Linked DNA regions of Homo sapiens: regions 2 and 3 are each reported to be linked to region 1. The links are microRNA targets in miRTarBase. Many come from high-throughput screens and were not tested one by one. Region 1 holds a microRNA gene; each other region holds the end of a gene's coding sequence.

What was found. Region 1 holds the annotated microRNA hsa-miR-5008-3p (CCUGUGCUCCCAGGGCCUCGC, at 822-842, shown strand). A microRNA usually pairs through its seed, bases 2 to 8, with sites in the 3' UTR of a target mRNA and lowers its output. Matches are read on the target gene's strand: a 7mer-m8 pairs with bases 2 to 8, a 7mer-A1 pairs with bases 2 to 7 and ends in A, and an 8mer does both.
Region 2: miRTarBase lists ASB11 as a target of hsa-miR-5008-3p. The part of its 3' UTR that is shown has no 7-base or 8-base seed match.
Region 3: miRTarBase lists SRSF3 as a target of hsa-miR-5008-3p. Seed matches in the 3' UTR shown: 7mer-A1 at 656-662 and 7mer-m8 at 2,943-2,949.

Annotation. Positions count from the first base shown.
Region 1 is chr1:227,939,452-227,942,451 of GRCh38, reverse strand. MIR5008 (microRNA 5008) reads left to right here and starts at 769; the gene lies at 769-862. The region is part of intron 1 of WNT9A (Wnt family member 9A); the gene reads left to right. RefSeq lists an enhancer at 1-322.
Region 2 is chrX:15,281,012-15,284,011 of GRCh38, reverse strand. ASB11 (ankyrin repeat and SOCS box containing 11) reads left to right here. Exons shown (of 7, transcript NM_080873.3): 7 at 383-2,315. The coding sequence ends at 507. Among named protein-coding and RNA genes, the nearest start is that of ASB9, 12 kb to the right of the region's middle.
Region 3 is chr6:36,601,605-36,604,604 of GRCh38, forward strand. SRSF3 (serine and arginine rich splicing factor 3) reads left to right here. Exons shown (of 6, transcript NM_003017.5): 5 at 104-190; 6 at 358-3,000. The coding sequence ends at 385. Among named protein-coding and RNA genes, the nearest start is that of SRSF3, 8.7 kb to the left of the region's middle.

The DNA.
Region 1 (3,000 bases):
CCAGGTGCTTGGCTTCCCTGACAGTGGGGCCGTAAGTGGGAGGGTCTGGAGTGTCAGCCTGATGGCCCCTGCAGGCGCTGGTGGCCTTCCTCCTTCCTGCTCTGCACCCAGGGGCCTTGGAACCCCCAGCCTCTCCCTGCCCCACCTGCTTGGGGGTCCTGGCTCCCTGGAGGGTGTGGAGGGTGTGTGGTAAGGACGGAGCAGCAGTGCCTGGCCTGCCACAGCTGAGGGAGCAGATGTCCTGTCCACAGCCGGCGGACGTCTGGTTGGGGAGACAGCTGGCCTCATCTTGCTCCCGCCCTGCTGCAGGCTGCAGAGGGCCCCAGTGCCTGCCCTGGCCTGGGACCTTCCGCCGGCTGCTGGGGTGGCCCGGGCTGGGGGTGCCCTGCTCTGGGGTTTGGCCATCAAAGAAGCGTGTGGGTGACTCTTCCCCTAGGAAAGAGCACACAGGCACGGATACCTCCTGGAGGCTCTGGACCCTGGGGCAGGGAGGAGGTGATGCCTGTGGGAGGGTGGGGGCTGCGGGAAAGCGACACCTGTTGACAGGCCTCGGTCGCGCCACCTGATCCCAGCTGCGGCACGGGCTCCCTTTGTGCATTGTGCTGGGCGGCGGGGTCAGGACCGGTGCAGTTGTCTGGGACCAGGGTGGCTCCCGCAGCAGTGTCTGTGGGACTGGGGACTGAGCCAGGCCCCCAGAACCCAGAAGGCCAGCCACGAGTGGGGGTTCCCCAGACCCCATGCCTTCTGGCTGGAAGTTGACCTCTGATGGGGCTGACCCCTAGGGTCAGGTGAGGCCCTTGGGGCACAGTGGTGCCATCTCCCCTGTGCTCCCAGGGCCTCGCCTGTCCCTTGAGGTCGGCCCCAGCTGCTGCTTCTTGCAGGAAGCCCAGTGACTGCCCAGATGCCTCCTTCTCTCCCTGCATGCTCAACTCTGGGGTTTGCCAGGAGGGTCCCCATGGAGTCTCCTCAGATGCATCCTTCTCTCCCTGGTTGCTCAACTCTGGGGTCAGCCAGGAGGGTTCCCGTGGGGTCTCTTCAGATGCATTCTATTCTCCCTGGTCGCTCAACTCTGGGATCAGCCAGGAGGGTCCCCTTGTGTTCTCCTCAGATGCATCCTTCTCTCCCTGGTCGCTCAATTCTGGGATTGGCCAGAAGGGTCCCTGTGGGGTCTTCTCCAAGCTGCATTCTGTGTGCCCTCCTATCCCAAGACTCCCTCAAGCCTGAGGCTCTCCCTGCCAGGTGGATCTGTGTCACTCATTCACCTGGCAGCCCAGCCCCGGGTCCTACAGGACTCTGACTCTGGCAGGGCTGTGTCTACACTTGTGGCCAGACGTAGTGCAGTGCAGACCTGGCTGCCAGGCTGCCGCACCTTCCCGTGTGTGGACGATAGGCCAGGTGTTGATGGCCCCACCAGAGCAGCCATGCAGAGTGCAGCCCCGGCGGGGACGTGACCCTGGTTTTCCTTCAGGGGTCATATTCAAGCACATCCGTGGTCCAGGCCGGGCAGGGTGGCAGGTGGCTGGGGATGGTCTTGCTGTGCCTGCTGACCTGGGTGGCACTGGGCCGCCCCGGCCCCGTGACCTGCAGCCTGGGCCCTCCCAGGAGCCTGTTGCCCTCCCGGCATGGTCCTGGCTGGCTGGGCGCCGCTGCCCGCCAGAGGAAGCCCAGCTGTCCAGCTGGCAGTTGCAGCACCTCAGGACCAGTGGCCGGATGGGACGATGGAAAAAGGCAAGCCGCAGGCTGCATTTGTTTTTTTTAGCGATACCTGAGGTCAGTGCAGCCAGGGGAAGTGGGCTGGAGGTCTGGCCCAGGAGGAGCTGCTGCCAGAGCCTCCCAGAGCTGGAGAACGTCAGGGCCGGCGTCCCTCCTGGCCAGATGGGGACAGAGGCTGCAGACCTGGAGTCACTGTGGGGTGGGGAGGGGAGCCAGGTGGACTTTGGGATGCTCCCTCTGTGACACCTACAGGAGAGTGAGCTCCAGAAGGGATGACAGTGTGGGAGGTGACACTGGTGGCCACTGGAAGGTTGCGTGGCTCTCCCTGTCCTGCTGACCAGTTGTGTGGGTCTGCGGCTGTCTGGGAAGGCCATGGGGGGCTGTGGTCACTGAGCACAGAGGCCTCCTGGAAGCTTCTGCTCTTCACCTTTCCCCCGGGGGGTCCTGCGTGCAGCCTTGGTTGCCTGTCTTGCAGCCCACAGACCAGCCATGCCCCTTCTGGGGTCCAGGACCCTGCCCCAGAAAAGGGCAGTCAGCCCAAGTAGCCTGGGGGAGCTGGGCTGGCCTCTGTGGTCTGGTTTGGGGGACCCCATGGATGCTGCAGACACAGACAGGGCAGGGCTTATTCCAGGGGCTGCCATGGGACACGGTGCTTTCAGCAGGGTGGAGGGGGGTGTTTCTCTCAGGCCCGAGGATGCTTCACCTGGCAGGCACCTGGGCATCTGCACAGGCCACCCGTGCCATCCTTGCGGCATGTGCCCCACCTCCTGGGTGCAGCTGGGCCCTGGTGGCGTTGCAGCCCTGAGGGACACAGCAGACGTGCTTGGGCTGGAAGCTGGGCTCGGGCTGGGTTGATTTGCAGACCACGGGGAGGGTGGAGAGTTGATCTCAGCCCCGGTTTCTCAGTGCTAGAATTTGTTTTGATTTTGTTTCACACAGAAATTAAACGCTGTCTGGCAGGACTGAGGTTTTGCTGGCGGGGTGTTGTGGCTTCTGGAACTGCAGTCTCTTCTCCCTCTGCCCCAGCCTGGGGGAGAAAGCTGGGTCCCGGTCAGGGTGGCTAGACCTGCTGGCAGGAGGCAGGAAGGTCGGAGTCCGGCCTTGGTGATGTGTGCTCCCTCCGTAGGACTTCCTGTCTATTGTGCTGGGAGCTGGAAGGAGCCTGTGGCTTTAGGGACCTGGCAGTGTGGGGTGGCTGTCCCTGTGTGTTTCAGGTTCTCTCTGGGGACAAGGCCCGTTTAGCTGCCCTCAGGCTCAGGGCAAGGTGTCTTGAGTGGGTCCTCCCAG
Region 2 (3,000 bases), not on the chromosome of region 1:
CAAAGTGCTGGGATTACAGGCGTGAGCCACCGTGCCTGGCCCCGTGTATCACTTTCATTGGCACATTCAATACATGAATGAGATGCATTCCCTTTAGACCCCACACCTCATTCCTAACTTGCCTCTGGTTAGCTTCATTCTTCAACATTGGTAATCCAAGTACCATTGGAAGATTAACTTAAAGAAATGCATCCCTTCCAGAGGGGCAAATCAGGATCTGCTGTCTGTATTTAGTGTCCGCTACCTCATTCTATAGTTCCTATACAGATCCAGCTTCTCTTCTGCTTTTAGAAAATTTCCGCCTCTTCCAGTTCTCTGATTTCCCCCTTCCACCCCACCTCCCACCACTATGAAGTTAACACCATTTTTATTTCTCTCTCAGGCCCACCTGCTCTTTCCCAGCTCTGCCGCCTGTGTGTCCGGAAGTGTCTCGGTCGAGCATGTCATCAAGCCATCCACAAGCTACATCTGCCAGAGCCACTCGAACGATTCCTCCTATACCAATAGTCCTAAGTGTTCCTGGGAAGATACTTGGAATGACACAGATTGTTGTCTGCTGTACCTAGAGTACCTAATGTAGAAGCTCAACAGCTTAGACTCCTAGTATCTTTAAATGAGCTCAGTCGAAGTAAATCCCCCATGAGCTAGAACACTTGAGGAGTGGAAACTCCTGGTTAGTTTAATGTTCTCATTAACCAAGGGGCAAGTAGAAACCATTTAGCTTTTAGCTCTTGTTGTTAAGAAACTTAAAAGAACTGTGAAGTAGAGTGAAAACAATAGGCTGTTTTTTGATGATTCGGGATCTTCTTGTACCTAAAAGTCAACATTCTGAATATTGTATAGACACATATAAATTCAGGTGGATAAGATTATAACAAATGTTAGGTATTCCAAGATATGTTCTTGATTTAGTTCCTTCCTTCAGCCCTTCCCCACTTTTTTTCTTTCTTTCCTTGAATAAATCTGGTATAATTTTGATTTTTTGTATATATATACGTATATATATATACATACATATACGTATATATATATACGTATATATATACACACACACACATGCACTCATATATTTAATGTTTTCAAAGTCCTTAATATATATAGTTCATATATGTTTTCAAAGTCCTTAATATATGTATAAAGCTTATATATATATGTTTTCAAAGTTCTTTATATATAAAGTTATATATATTTATATAGACTTTATATATATATACATATATAAAGTTAAGGACTTCAGAAACATTGTAGTTAACTGAGGCTTCCAGTTACTGCGGTCCTGGTTGATAAGAGAGACTTTGGAAGAGATCAGTGCACCCAGAGGTTGGCATCTATTGCTTATTGCTTCTGATATTAAATGCTGTTATTTGAAGTAAGCAGTTCTAGGATTGAGAACACTGGGTGTCCCCAACAACCTGAACCCACAGGCATTGTCTGAGGCATGTTGCAACCCAAGCACTGGCTTATTTTCAAAGTCAAGATGCTCAGGGTTTTTGAAATAATTACATACTGATGCCAGCCACCAAAGTGGGCTCAATGCTGGGTCAATATTTTTTTCTGTGGATAGGGGCCCAAAATAAGCACAAAGGTATATAAAAAGAGGCTTCTCCTTTTCTGTCTTCTCCTTCTTCTCATTTCTCTCTCCTTCTGTCACCCCTCCTCTTCCTCTATTCTTTCTCTTTTTTGTGAATTTAGAACATGGGAACTGGATAGACTTTTAATTATTGTAAGTATTACTGTCATGGTTCAGTATTCAGTTCTAAAATGAAAATTCCCTCTCAGATCATCCTAAGACTCATTTCACACATGTTTTTTTTTCCCCCAATTTTTCTAGACCTTTGGCTCTCAACTGGAGACAATTTTGCCCCACTCCCACTGAGACATTTGTCAATGTCTGCAGACATGTTTAGTTGCAACAACTGGGGGAGAATTGCTACTATCATCTAGACGGTGGAGATCAGGGATGCAGCTAATCACCCTACAGTGCACAGGAGCCAGCAACAAAGAATTATCAGATCTGGCCGGGCATGGTGGCTCACGCCTGTAATCCCAGCATTTTGGGAGGCCGAGGCAGGCAGATCGCACTGTCAGGAGTTCGAGAACCGCCTGGCCACTATGGTGAAACCCTGTCTCTACTAAAAATACAAAAGTTAGCCAGGCGTGGTGGCAGGTGCCTATAGTCCCAGCTACTTGGGAGGCTGAGGCAGGAGAATCACTTGAACCCGGGAGGCGGAGATTGCAGTAAGCCAAGATCACGCCACTGCACTCCAGCCTGGGTGACAGAGCGAGACTCCGTCTCAAAACAAAAAAAAAAAAAAGAAAGAAAGAAAGAAAGAAAAACAAACAAAAAAAAGAATTATCAGGTACAAAATGTCAATAGTGCCAAGAGTGAGAAACCCTTCTCTAAGCCTGTGCTATTCAATACAGTAGCTGCTAGCTACATATGGCTAATGAGCACAGGAATTGTGGATAGGCTGAATTAAGATGTGTTGTAAGTGTAAAATACATATTACATTTTAGTGATTGAGTAAAAAAAGAATATGAAACATTATGAACTTTGTTTTGTTTTCTTTTTTAGACGGAGTTTCACTTTTGTCATCCAGGCTCGAGTGCAATGGTATGACCTTGGCTCATTGCAACCTCTAAGCCTGTGCTATTCAATACGGTAGCTACTAGCCACATATGGCTAATGAGCACAGGAATTGTGGCTAGGCTGAATTAAGATGTGTTGCACGTGTAAAATACATATTACATTTTAATGACTGAGTAAAAAAAAGAATATGAAATACATGAACTTTTTTCTTTTCTTTTCTTTTTTGAGACGAAGTTTTGCTTTTGTCACCCAGGCTTGAGTGCAATGGCACGATCTCGGCTCACTGCAACCTCTGCCTCCCAGGTTCAAGCGATTCTCCTGCCTCAGCCTCTGGAGTAGCTGGGATTGCAGGCATCTGCCACTATGCCCGGCTAATTTTCGGTATTTTTAGTAGAGATGGGGTTTTACCA
Region 3 (3,000 bases), not on the chromosome of region 1:
AAATATTGGAATTATTGGCATGAGTCACCATGCCAGATCAAGAAAATATTTATGTATAATTTTATCATACCTCATTGGTCCTAATGTTTTTTTGCTTGTTTAGGTCCCTTTCTAGAGATAGGAGAAGAGAGAGATCGCTGTCTCGGGAGAGAAATCACAAGCCGTCCCGATCCTTCTCTAGGTCTCGTAGGTAAGATCTTTGATAACTTGTATTTAAGACTTTGCATACATAGTATGCTAAGGCCTGTCTTCTAAGCCATAAATTTTTTACCTTAAAGTTCTATTTCGATATGTCACTAAAGTGTCACCAAGTTACAGATGTAATGTTTTGTTTTCTTTTTTTTTTTTTTTTTTTAGTCGATCTAGGTCAAATGAAAGGAAATAGAAGACAGTTTGCAAGAGAAGTGGTGTACAGGAAATTACTTCATTTGACAGGAGTATGTACAGAAAATTCAAGTTTTGTTTGAGACTTCATAAGCTTGGTGCATTTTTAAGATGTTTTAGCTGTTCAAATCTGTTTGTCTCTTGAAACAGTGACACAAAGGTGTAATTCTCTATGGTTTGAAATGGATCATACGAGGCATGTAATACCAAGAATTGTTACTTTACAATGTTCCCTTAAGCAAAATTGAATTTGCTTTGAACTTTTAGTTATGCACAGACTGATAATAAACCTCTAAACCTGCCCAGCGGAAGTGTGTTTTTTTTTAAATTTAAATACAGAAACAACTGGCAAAAATTGAACTAAGATTTACTTTTTTTTCCATAGCTGGGATATAGGCTGCAGCTATAGTTGAACAAGCAGTCTTTAAAAACTGCTGTGAAACACAGGCCATCAGGGAAAACGAAATGCTGCACTATTAAATTAGAGGTTTTTGAAAAATCCAACTCTCATCCTGGGCAGAGGTTGCCTAGTTGGTATAGAATGTTAAGTTTCAAGAAAGTTTACCTTTGCTTTAGGTCATAAGTTCCTTATTTGATTGCTGTATATGGATACATGGCTGTTCGTGACATTCTTTATGTGCAAATTTGTGATTTCAAAAATGTCCTGCCAGTTTAAGGGTACATTGTAGAGCCGAACTTTGAGTTACTGTGCAAGATTTTTTTTTCATGCTGTCATTTGTAATATGTTTTGTGAGAATCCTTGGGATTAAAGTTTTGGTTACAAATTGTTCTTTAACTTGAAAGCCTGTTTTTCCTTGCAAACTCAAATCTGTGAGCTTGGTACCAAGTCCAGGTATAACATTCCTATTGGAAGCCATACTTATATTTTCTTGTAAAGTGCTTTTGAATTAATAAAATATTAGCATAATTGTGTATAGTCAGTTGAACCCACTGTTACCATTGTTCTTATCCCATGGGAAGCAGTTGGTTACACGATTCTTATTTTATAAGAAACAGCTGAGAGGCACTATGGATTAGTCTTCTGAAGTGAAGGAAATATAGATGTCACCTAAGTGATAGTTAACCCATTTTTTTTTTTTTTAGGCATAGAAGCCAGTTCAGGGTCCATAATATTTAGTGACCAACATTTTAAAGTATAGCAGCAACCTGGTTCTTAAACACAAAGTAAGTTGCCCATTAACAAATGGCTTTTATCTTTAGCATGAAAACTTTCCACAGGTCTAAAAATTGCTTCCATTTTATAATTTGAGGTGTTGCATGGGAATTCTAAGCTGATCCATCATGATGTAAAAGTTCACAATATGGTTCAAATGTAACAGTGCAGAATTGAATATGGAGGCATGCATAACCTTCCTCTTAGAAAATGGCAGGTGTTGTAATTTCAAATTTTTGTGCAATTAGATTAAATCATAATGCAACAGTCTTGTGGCTTAGTTTCCTTAAATATGCTCTTAAGATAGTTTTGGATTATGCGGTATTGACTGTCTTAAATATGAAAGATAAGTCATTGCATTAAGAGTTCAAGCTAAATGGATACATTAAGATACAGTTCCTAAACAAATTATTTATTTCCACCTTTTACACAAATCTTGGGAGAATTGGTGTCAGGAAGGTTCAGCCTTAAAGTTAAGCATGTTCAAGAAAGACACTTTTCAGACAGCCTGTTTATTTACTGAGAGCTCTGGCATTGGGCATTTTGTCTTTAGTATTCTCACATAGCCTACAACCTGTTCCTGTTAGGAACAAGCCAAGATAGCTAAGAAGTTACGGAAGCCATGCAATATGTCAATTACATTGCTTTTTATAAATGGACAACTTATGTGGGCATTTTTGGGCAGTATATGACTTCCTTGCAGGCTCTTAAGTTGGAAGGGTTTCTGTAAAAAGGACAGTTACGGGTATAATATGGCTAAGAGAAATAATACAGAACCTGAAATAAAAGTAACTTCACCAGGGAGTTATCCTGACTTAGGTGACATACAGTCCCAGTTGGCAGTTACTTTAACCAGGAGCCCTAGCATAACCTCAAGACTCTTAGAAACTTTAGAACATGGAAATTGTTAAAAGCTTTGAATTGCACATTTAGATTGTGGCTATTAGGAATTTTTAAAGTTGTAATTCCTAAAATAACAGGTCACACTAACCGGTCTTGTCCATATTCAGGGTTGAGTGTAAAAATGAAAGGAATCACAAAACTGAACTTAGACCTGTGGTTTAAGGATCAAGGTGTTCACTAGAAGTCACTGTTACTAATACTTGATGACAATGTAAAGAAACATTAAGGATTATATTTGATTGTTTTCAAAGACACTGGCTGGATGTGGTGGCTCACACTTGTAATTCCTAGCACTTTGGGAGGCTAGGGCGGGTGGGAGGATCTCTTGAAGCCAGGAGTTGGAGACCAGTCTGCCCAACATGGCAAGATTCACATTTCTATTAAAAGGAATATTTAGTTTGATCTCTGGTTCACAGTTCATTGTGGGTTGCTTCTGACCTCCATGTCTTAAGCAGAAAGTAGGGAAGTTGTAGTTTTACCAAGCACAGGTACCCTGTGTCTACCATTTGAGTATCTTAGAGATCCTTACAAACGTGATC